3 linked regions of the Homo sapiens genome follow. The protein of the gene in region 2 purifies or fractionates together with the protein of the main gene of each other region. This does not show direct contact. Each region holds a gene or a part of one and is shown on either strand. Other genes may lie near its edges.

What was found. Proteins that work in one complex are often made in the same cells at the same time.
Region 1: the proteins of MPHOSPH10 (region 2) and NOL10 fractionate together in Homo sapiens (co-fractionation; one large-scale study listed by BioGRID). This does not show direct contact.
Region 3: the proteins of MPHOSPH10 (region 2) and DDX52 fractionate together in Homo sapiens (co-fractionation; one large-scale study listed by BioGRID). This does not show direct contact.

The regions. Positions count from the first base shown.
Region 1 is NC_000002.12:10,592,476-10,595,975, forward strand, and holds part of NOL10 (nucleolar protein 10), read right to left. Parts: intron 1-3,500.
Region 2 is NC_000002.12:71,133,634-71,137,133, reverse strand, and holds part of MPHOSPH10 (U3 small nucleolar ribonucleoprotein protein MPP10), read right to left. Parts: intron 3,187-3,500; coding exon 3,029-3,186; intron 2,509-3,028; coding exon 2,337-2,508; intron 1-2,336. UniProt on the Homo sapiens protein: Component of the 60-80S U3 small nucleolar ribonucleoprotein (U3 snoRNP). Required for the early cleavages during pre-18S ribosomal RNA processing. Part of the small subunit (SSU) processome, first precursor of the small eukaryotic ribosomal subunit.
Region 3 is NC_000017.11:37,626,447-37,629,946, forward strand, and holds part of DDX52 (probable ATP-dependent RNA helicase DDX52), read right to left. Parts: exon of another isoform or gene 3,430-3,500; coding exon of another isoform or gene 3,403-3,429; intron 2,227-3,402; coding exon 2,115-2,226; intron 415-2,114; coding exon 342-414; intron 1-341.

The DNA.
Region 1 (3,500 bases), about 61 Mb from region 2:
CGCCATGTCTCAGGAGAAGGGAGGGGGCTATGATGTAAATTTTGGAGTTATCTGTAGATATCGGATAGATGATAGTGTGAAAGATAATTTCAAATGAATAACTATGTGCCTATTACACATTTTCAGGTTAAAAAAACCCAAGGGCAAATATTTACTTTTCATCTTACTATATTTATTAAAGTAATAATCATATTTAATAAATAGAGAAAATGTTACAAAGACTACATATGTTGCTGGTATTAAGATTTTTTTCTTAATTTAAAACAAATCAATTGCATTGCCTAAAGACAAGTATGCTTTGGATGAACAACTATAAAATAAAACCTCTTCTGACCCAGCTTGTAAAAATATTTCCCTCAGGGTTTTTTCCTAGTCTGTTTGTTTTCACAGCTGTCTTAAGGAAAAAAGTAGGATAAGGTATAGCTATTAATGTTCTATAGGAGCTTACAAGTGTCTGGCTAGTGATCCGTCCTATAAATACCCGTCTACACATGCTCAACTTTACCATTAAAATATAGAAAACATTAAAGTACTATTCATACCACAGTCCTACCTGGAAGAATGGTATCTGTCTACCTGAGTGGGACGCCTATTATTATTTTGTTCCAACATAGTAACATATATGAAGAATGATTGCCATTTGAAACAAATTAGTTTTTTTTTTTTTCTTTTTTTTCTTTTGAGATGGGGTCTTGCTCTGTCACGCAGGCTGGAGTGCAGTGGTGTGATCTCGGCTCACTGCAACCTCTGCCTCCCGGGTTCAAGCGATTCTCCTGCCTCAGCCTCCTGGAGTAGCTGGGATTACAGGCACGCGCCACCACGGCCGGCTAATTTTTGTGTTTTTAGTAGAGACGGGGTTTCACCAGTTGGTCAGGCTGGTCTCAAACTTCTGACCTGGTGATTCGCCTGCCTCGGCCTTCCAAAGTGCTGGGATTACAGGCGTGAGCCACTGCACCCCGGCCAATCAAATTAGTTCTTTCAATGCTATGATACCTATGAAGTTAGGCTGGTACAGACTTCTGAGTAAAGATGGTGGCTTGAACACTAGTATCTTCTAATCTCTCCTAAAACTTCACTAGAACAACAGAAAAGGAGCTTTATAAAAAGGGCATAAACCCTTAAGAAAAAAAGGAAAGGAAATAGGGGTAATAAAAATTTGGAAGCCAGAAAGAAAGCCTATTTAAAAATCACACCCCAGCTCTGGAAAGCCTGGCCCCAGCCCTTTCCCACGGAGAAGTTGCTTGGCTGAGGCTGGCACTGCAAGAGCAAGAGAGGTGTGCTGGCCACAAGGAGGGGAGGGCAAGGCTGGCACATGGGGGTGAGGTGCCCTCTGGACCCCTCCAACCTCTTGTGACCTACAGTGGTCAGTTCTAGGAATGCTGGTAGCCAGGCCTTTACCCCCCCAAGCAGGAGGACCTGACCAGCCAAGAGAAAGACCTAAGAGACAATGACATGTGCAGTGTCCTTCCCCAAACAGTGTGGCCAAGTCACTGCACACTGACTGAGGGACCCTGTCCCCACCTAGAGTTTTCATTCAGTTTTTTAACTCTCTTATTCCTCACTGCCAAAAAATAACTATGGATCATGGCAGGAAAAACTAATTGAAATTTTCTTTCAAGAAAATTCCCCAGCACTGAAGACCGAACTTCTAGACTGAGATGGGCTTGCAGCACAGTACAGTCGCTTCGTGTCAGGTTTCCCAGGACGCTTCCTCTTCCTGGGCTTACACTGTTATTTTAGAGAAACAACTCCCCTAGCAACTTCCCGAGGAAAAGCAGCATTTAAGGGGAATTGGTTGTTGTTGAGAACTTGCATGTCTGAAAATATCTACCATACCCTCACATTGACTGACTGCTTGCCTAGGTTGGAAACTATATTCCTTCAGGAAACTGAAGGTTCTTGTAATTCTCTGTCCAACATGGGCTGAGGTGAAGTGAATCCCCAGGATAATGGTAAAGGGAGGTCCCGGGATTAGAAGGTGACCAGGCTAGAATGGAATGGGGCAGAAAATTCTAGAAGCAACTTCTTCAGGAAGGTAAATAAGCATAAGTCTAACCTATCTAAACACCTCAAAATAAGACTTAGAGAACTGACATAGAATTGGGTGTTGATTAGTGATAACTACATAGAAAACGAGCAAGAGAGACAATTATTAACTTCAAAGTACACAAAGATTGAACAAGAAATGCAGTCACAGATTACTACTGACTCGGCTGGAAATAGCACTTACGTAGGCCAGGCATGGTGGCTCGTGCCTGTAATCCCAACACTTTGGGAGGCTGAGGTGGGAGGATCTCTTGAGCTCAGGAGTTGGAGACCAGCCCGGACAACACAGTGAGACCTCAGCTCTACTAAAATATATACATACATATATATTAGCTGGGTGTGGTGTGCACCTGTAATCCCAGCTACTTGAGAGGCTGAGGTGAGAGGATCACTTAAGCCCGAGAGACTGAGGCTGCAGTAAGCTATGATTCTGCCACTGTACTCCAGCCTGGGTAACAGGCTCTATCTCAAAAAACAAAAGTACAACAATGTAATGCTGAATACCAACTTAATCAAAATCACAATATAGCTTCCTTGGAAAGGAAAGTTATCAAAAGATAATGCCTAACACTAAAAAGTTAAGAGGTAGGACTACAGGCAAGAGGGAGGGAGGGGGAGGGGGCAGAGAGAGAGAGAGAGAGAGAGAGAGAGAGAGAGATTTATACCAAAATAATCAGCAAAAAAGGCAAAAGTGGTTGTCTGAGAAGAGGTGAAAATGGAGGAAGGCAGAGGGAGGAAAAGGGGCAGACAATGGGATGGCCTACATTCCTAACAAACCTTGGAGAAATGTTTAGGTTTTTTTTGTTTTTGTTTTTGACAGAGTCTCACTCTGTTACTGGGCTGGAGTGCAGTGGCACAACCATGGCTAACTGCGGCCTTGCAGGGAGATCCTCCCACCTCAGCCTCCTGAGTAGCTGGGACCACAGGCATGCACCACTACACCCAGCTAATGTTTTGTAGAGATGCGGTTTCACCATGTTGCCCAGGCTGGTCTTGAACTCCTGGGCTCAAGTGATCCTCCCTGCCTTGGCCTCCCAAAATGATGGGATTACAGAAATGTTTTTTTGTTTTGTTTTGTTTTTGTTTGTTTGTTTGTTTTTTGAGATGGAGTCTTGCTCTGTTGCCCAGGCTAGAGTGCAATGGCGTGATCTTGGCTCACTGCAACCTCTGCCTCCCAGGTTCAAGCAATTCTCCTGCCTCAGCCTCCCAAGTAGCTGGGATTACAGGTACGCACCACCACACCCAACTAGTTTTTCTATTTTTAGTAGAAATGGGGTTTCACTGTGTTGGCCAGAGTGGTCTCAAACTCCTGGCCTCAAGTGATCTGCCTGCCTTGGCCTCCCGAAGTGCTGGGATTACAGGTGTGAGCCCATAATGTTTGTGTTAGGCACTGTGCCCAGACTGAAATGTTTAGTTTTTAAAACTATGCATGTATAACTGTAATTTAAAAAAAA
Region 2 (3,500 bases):
TGACATATATGGAGGTGACTATATGTTTTTTCTCCTTAATGTCTTGCAGTCAGGAATCATACTAGATTTTCTAATACTGATTCAAGAGAATAAGGTTCATGCAGTTGTGTGGCATCATTTTTCCACTGTGCTGTAGGATTTTTGCATCACTGTTCATGAATGAGACTGTGCTCTGTGTGTGTGTGTGTGTGTGTGTGTGTGTGTGTGTGTGTGTGTGTGTTTTAATGCTACCTCTGTCAGGTTTGGGTTTTCATGACCTAACAGTTTCAAAAAAAAAAAAAAAAAGGTTGAAAGTTCTACTTTATTCTTTATATGTGGAAATTGAAATAAATTATTTTTGATTTATTGAAACTTAACTTGAAGGTCTGATATAATTTCACAATAAAACCAAACCTTTCTTTCTTTATTTGTTGGGGAAGGGCGGGAGGAGTGGGGTGGAAGGATACTAACTCATTGATATTTTATAATGGTGCTTTTTTTCCCTTAGAATTTCTCTATCTTCTGGGGACAATCTGACAACCATGGATTTAATTCAGATTCTTAGATTTTAAAAACAATTCTTTTGATATTCTTGGTATCTTTCATTCTCTGCCTGTTCTCTTTTTTTTTTTAATTTTTTCAGACAGTCTCTAGCTCTGTTGCCCAGGCTAGAGTGCTGTGGTGCAATCATAGCTCACTGCAGCCTTGAACTCCTGGACTCAAGAGATCCTCCCCCATCAGCCTCTCGAGTAGCAAAGACTATAGGCACACACTACCATTCCCAGCTAACTTTTTTAATCTTTAGTGGAGACGGGCTTTTGCCCTGTTGCCCAGGTTGGTCTCGAATTCCTGGGCTCCAAACAATCCTCCCTCCTCAGCCTCCCAAAGTGCAGGTGTGAGCCACTGTGCCTGGCCCTATTCTCATTTTTATTGTGATAAAAATTTTAAGGTAAATAAATGATAGAGCCAAATTATTAGAGCCAGACTACATCTACAAAAATTTAATGAAATTTCACTTGTCTGAAATCATGACACAAAGAAACAATTTTTACCAACTTTGAAAGATATGTTTGTGATGGTATAAATTAAAATTCTGGCTATTTGGCACTCACAAAAATCTGTGGAGCACCTTAAAGACATAGGTGGTATCCGCTGGGCGCAGTGGCTCACGCCTGTAATCCCAGCACTTTGGGAGGCCAAGGTGGGTGGATCACCTGAGGTCAGGAGCTTCAGACCAGCCTGGCCAACATGGTGAAACCCCGTCTCTACTAAAAATACAAAAAAATTAGTTGGGCGTGGTGGCGGGCATCTGTAATCCCAACTACTCAGGAGGCTGAGGCAGGAAAATTGATTGAACCTGGGAGGTGGAGGTTGCAGTGAGCTAAGATCACGCCACTGCACTCCAGCCTGGGTGACAAGAGTGAAACTCTGTCTCAAAAAAAAAAAAAAAAAGAAAAAGAAAAAGAAAAGACATATGTGGTATCCTCCAAAACAGTGGAAACAGTTAAGATGCTCACAGGACAGCTTTATCAGGAGAGACATGCTATACATATAAAGATATTAGGGACAGAGAAAAAAACAATTATCTTTAAAAATTTTTTTATTTTTGAGACAGAGTCACACTCTGTCGCCCAGGCTGGAGTCCAGTGACACCATCTCGGCTCACTGCAACCTCCGCCTCCTGGGTTCAAGGGATTCTCCTGCCTCAGCCTCCCGATTAGCTGGGATTACAGGTGCCCGCCACCACACCTGGCTACTTTTTTTTTTTTTTAGTAGAGATGGGGTTTTACCATGTTAGCCAGGCTGGTCTCGAACTCCTGACCTGAAGTGATCCACCTGCCTCAGCCCCGAAAAGTGCTGGGATTACAGGCATGAGCCACCACGCCCAGCAGAAGCAACTATTTTACTCACAGGCCCCAAACTGAAATGCAGGCACTGATTTTGCAAATCAGATGCTTTCCATATGGCAAGATTTTTGGTTTTTTGTTTTAAGACAAGGTCTTGCTTGCCGCCCAGGCTAGAGAGCAGTGATGCAATCTTAGCTCACCGCAGCATCAACCTCCTAGGCTCAAGTGATCCTCCCACCTCAGACACCAGAGTAGCTGGACTACAGGCACACATCACCATGCCCAGCTAATTTTTGTATTTTTGGTAGAGACAAGGTCTCACTATGTTGCCTAGGCTGGTTCTGAACTCCTGAGCTCAAGCGATCCTCTTGCTTTGGACTACCAAAGTGTTAGGATTACAGGCGTGAGCCACTGCACCTGGCCAAGATATTTGTTTTCAAAGGATGGTTAATAGTTTTCAAAGGATGGTTAATATCAAGTATATTAAAAATTCCTTAAATTACTAATTACCTTTTCCTGTCTTTTTTCAAAGGAGGATTTAACTTCATCAGAATTTTTCTTTACATTTAAAACACCTGTATCTTCAGTTTCCGCATCATCTGGTAAAGCAAAGGTCACTCTTTTCAAGCTTTCTTTATGTTGTTTATTGTCTTCATTTTCTTGAAGGTCATCATCTTCATCCCTACAATACCAAAACTCTTATAAAAAGAAATATACTACTTTCCATTAGAAAAACAAAAGGAAACAAATTTTCCCTTAATAAAGTTCTTATTTTATATACCTAATGCAACCAAATACTCAGAACTTCCAAAATCATTCAGTTATTAAGGAACAAAAGGTATTATTTAGGTAAAACGCTATGTAAGAAACAGAAAAAAAAGTGTCCAACATATAGAAAATAAATTATTCATCAATCTATAATACAAATCTCTTATCTCACAAAAATAACAGGATTTTATTGACACAAAACCAAATCAAAGTTCCTGGTAAGGAAGGTTTGATTGCTACTACCAGAGATATTTTTCTTCATTAAGTGATCTCTAATGTCCCTTTACAGTCAGAGACTTTCCTCTGGCTATCTTGAGAATATCTGATATTAGAGAATAGAACTTGCTAAGACAAACACATTTGATAACTACGAGTACACACACATGATTGGGCAATTCCAGCTTACAATGTAAAGGATGGTTCAAAATACTCACGTTTCCGAAATACTTAGTTCTTCTGCTTCTTCTTCAGCAATTTCATCATCTTCTTTGTTTGAATCCAGCTCATCATCATGAACATTTGTTATGTCTTCATCACTTTCAACTGGATCAAAAAAATCTTTGTATTTCAGATTTCTGGAACTTTTACCTGACTAAAATAAAAAGATATTAAAAACTATTAATTAGGGATAGAAAAATATATTAACACATGCATATAGATTTGCATGTATATTGTATGTATATATTACTTTCTGACTTAATAACACTACAAGCTAATAACTAATAACCAAACTAATAACTAAATAATTATTAGGTGAAAATGGCAACTAATAACACTACCACAAAATTATAAGACCAACTGGAACATAAATTGAATGGAAGTACAGATTCATTTATAACTGATAAGATAGAGCACAATATTTCTTATCACTAAATCTTCTAACTACAATTAAATCTCTCCTAGAAA
Region 3 (3,500 bases), on a different chromosome or scaffold from region 2:
CCAGTCATGCCCTGACTTGTGGGTCAATTAAACCTTCCGTTCTTTATAAATTACCCAGTCTCAGGTAGCTGTTTAGAGCAGCATGAAAACGGACTAACACAGCAGGAAAAAGGTAAAAGGAAGATAAACATAGCTTAATGTACCTATTCCAATAGCCTCAAAGATACGAGGTTCCATTTCTTTTCTATGAATTTTTTTAAAAAACCATTATTCTCAGTGCCAACACTGACTGAAGGTGGCAAACAGCAAGCTCCAAAGACAAAAAATACAAGCAATAGAGGACAAAATATAATTAACTAAATTAAAAATACACACGAAAGACATGAAAATATCATCTATACCTTGCTAGGTCGATTCCGGGGGGATCTTGCTTTAATAAATAGATTAGTCGATTTGGAGTAGTCACAAGAATATCTATAGGAAAAACAAATGGTAGAAATTGCAAAAACAGGATTTATCCCTCTTGAACTAGGAATTAAGCCTCCTCAACTTCAGTTAATAACCTGAAGTGGGAAGTAGTCATAGCCAACAACACAAAACTATTATATCCCTACTTTCCTTTTAATATATCTGAGCAGCTTTCTCTTTCTTTTTGAGACAGGGTCTTGCTCTGTCACCCAGCCTGGATGGAGTACAATGTGTGATCATAGCTCACTGCATGCAACTTCAAACTCTTGGGCTCAAGAGATCTTCTGGCATCAGCATTCTGAGTAGCTGGGACTACAGGCACATGCCACTGCACCTGGCTAATTTTTATTTATTACTATTATTTTTTTGAGACAGTCTAGCTCTGTCGCCCAGGCTGGAGTGCAGTGGCACAACCTCGGCTCACTGCAAGCTCTGCCTCCCGGGTTCACGCCATTCTCACTCCCGAGTAGCTGGGACTACCACTAGCTGGGACTACAGGCGCCCGCCACCACGCCCAGCTAATTTTTTGTATTTTTAGTAGAGATGGTAAATTTTTTTTTTACTTTTATTTTTGTAGAAACAGGGTCTCCCTATGCTGTCCAGGCTGGTCTCGAATTCCTGGGCTCAAGCAATCTCCCTGCCTCAGCCTCCCAAAATGCCGGATTACAGGCATGAGCCACAATACCCAGCCTCTTCTCAATTTCTAAGAGGAAAGAACAATTTAATTTTCAAATCTTTTTTTCCCCCAGGAAAATCATTTTTTTTACATGGAATTTTATGCAGAGGCCCAAGATTTAAACAAAACAAAACAGATGAAAGCTTATCTCCAAGTGGACAATGTCAAAAAACAAAAAGAAAAAAAAAAAAAATGAAAGCAGATTCTCTGGCTGATATAAGGGTGAGGATGTAAGCCGTTCTTTTTGTTTTTTTTAAGATGGAGTCTCACTCTGTTGCTCAGGCTGGAGTACAGTGGTGCAATCATAGCTCATGGCAGCCTTGAACTCCTGCGCTCAAGTGATCTTCCCACCTCAGACTCCCAAGTAGCTAGGACTACAGGCATGCACCACCATGCCTGGCTAATTTTTTTTTATTTAAAAAATTTCTTTTAGAGATGGAGTCTCGCTATGTTGCCAAGGCTGGTCCCAAACTCCTGGCCTCAAGCAATCCTCCCACCTCAGCTTCTCCATAGCTATAGGTATGGAGAAGATTACAGGTGTGAGCCACTGCACCCAGCTATGCATGCCATTCCTGTCTGCCAGAGTATTTCCATGGCAGATTAAAAATCAATGGTATAAATCAGAATTTTTTAGCCTCAGCACTGTTACCACTTTGGGCCACTAAGTGTTCGTTGCAGGGGACTGTCCTGTGCACCGCAGAATGTTTAACAACATCCTTGGCTATAGGCTAGTAACTACAGGCTAGTAGCACTTCTCCCCAGTTGTGACAACTACAAATGTCTCCAAATTATTGCCAAATGTCCCTGTGGTGAAAGGTGGGGGGCAAGATTGTCTCTATTTGAGAACTACTGGTATATATTTATGTATAACTTCTCAGTAGAGTGAGAAGGGGATCGCTTTAGTTCTTCTAAAATTCAAATTTTATACATACATGACTATACTTTAACAACACTTACATAGCAATTAGGATATTTATAATTTCCAGATTCCTTACATGCTCTATCTACATCCCATGTATGAATTCCTTACCAAACTTTTTAGATGATTTAGGTCCAAATTTCTTGGCTGCCACTGCTGCTTTGTGGATCATGTGTATTCTGAATCCTGTTCCCTCAGAAATTTTTATTAACTCTCTGTGAATCTAAAAAAAAAAAGATTAAAAACATTAGCTGCTAACATACTTGGACAAGATGTATACTCTTTTACATGATTAATGAAATAAATCTATTACCAACCCATGAATATCTGAAATTAAACTCATAACAATCTGTAGATTAACCTGAAATCTCAGCATTTTGAAACTTCAATGCCTAATAAGATTCAATAATTTCTTCAGGTGGAATAAACTAGTTCCCAGAGATAAAACTAACCTATTTTGTATTGTTTTCAGAATACAGTACTACTGGCCGGGTGTGGGGGCTCACACCTGTAATCCCAGCGCTTTGGGAGGCCAAGGTGGGTGGATCACTTGAGGCCAGGAGTTCCAGACCAGCCTGGCCAACGTGGTAAAACCCCATCTCTACTAAAAACACAAAAACAATTAGCCAGGTGTGATGGTGCGCACCTGTAATCTCAGTTACTTGGGAGGCTGAGGCAGGAGAATCACTTGAACCTGGGAGGCAGAGGTTGCAGTGAGCCGAGATGGCGCCGCTGCACTCCAGCCTGGTCCACAGAGCATGACTGTCCCAAGAAAAAATACACACACACACACACACACACACACACACACACACACACACACACACATAGTACTATTACAAGACTATTTCATACTTGATATGTGTTTCATATTAAGCACATTGGGAGGGTAGAACAGATCACTGTATACTTTTCCCTTCTAAAAAAAACAAACTGAGATGAGTCAGGCATAATGACTCATGCCTGTAAGCCCTGTACTTTGGCAGGCCAAGGTGGGAGGATCACTTGAACCCAGGAGTTCAAGACCAGCCTGGGTAACATAGGGAGACCTTGTTTCTACAAAAAGAAAAAAATTAACCAGGCGCAGTGGCATGTGCCTGTAGTCCCAGTTACTCAAGAGGCTGAAGAGGGAGATCTCTTGAGGCCAGGAGTTCGAGGTTGCAGTAAGCCATGATCACACCACTGCATGCCAGCCTGGGTAACAGAGTAAGAATCTGTGGCTAAAAAACAAACAAATAAATAAATAAAAACCAAAACTAAGATGAGTATTCATTTTTTTTAGATGAGAAAAATAAATGTCCAAGCAGGGCTATATTTAATTAGCCTTTCAACTTCAAAGACCTTAAAGCATTTACCAAAGAAGTGTAAATATTAAAATCACTGTGTTTTAGAAACTTACAGAAAGACTTAAAAGACTTGCCCACATGGAGTAAGATCCGGAGCACTGTGCTGTGTAGAGGATACTTGACCATGACAGAAGACGTGGGCCTTGCTTTT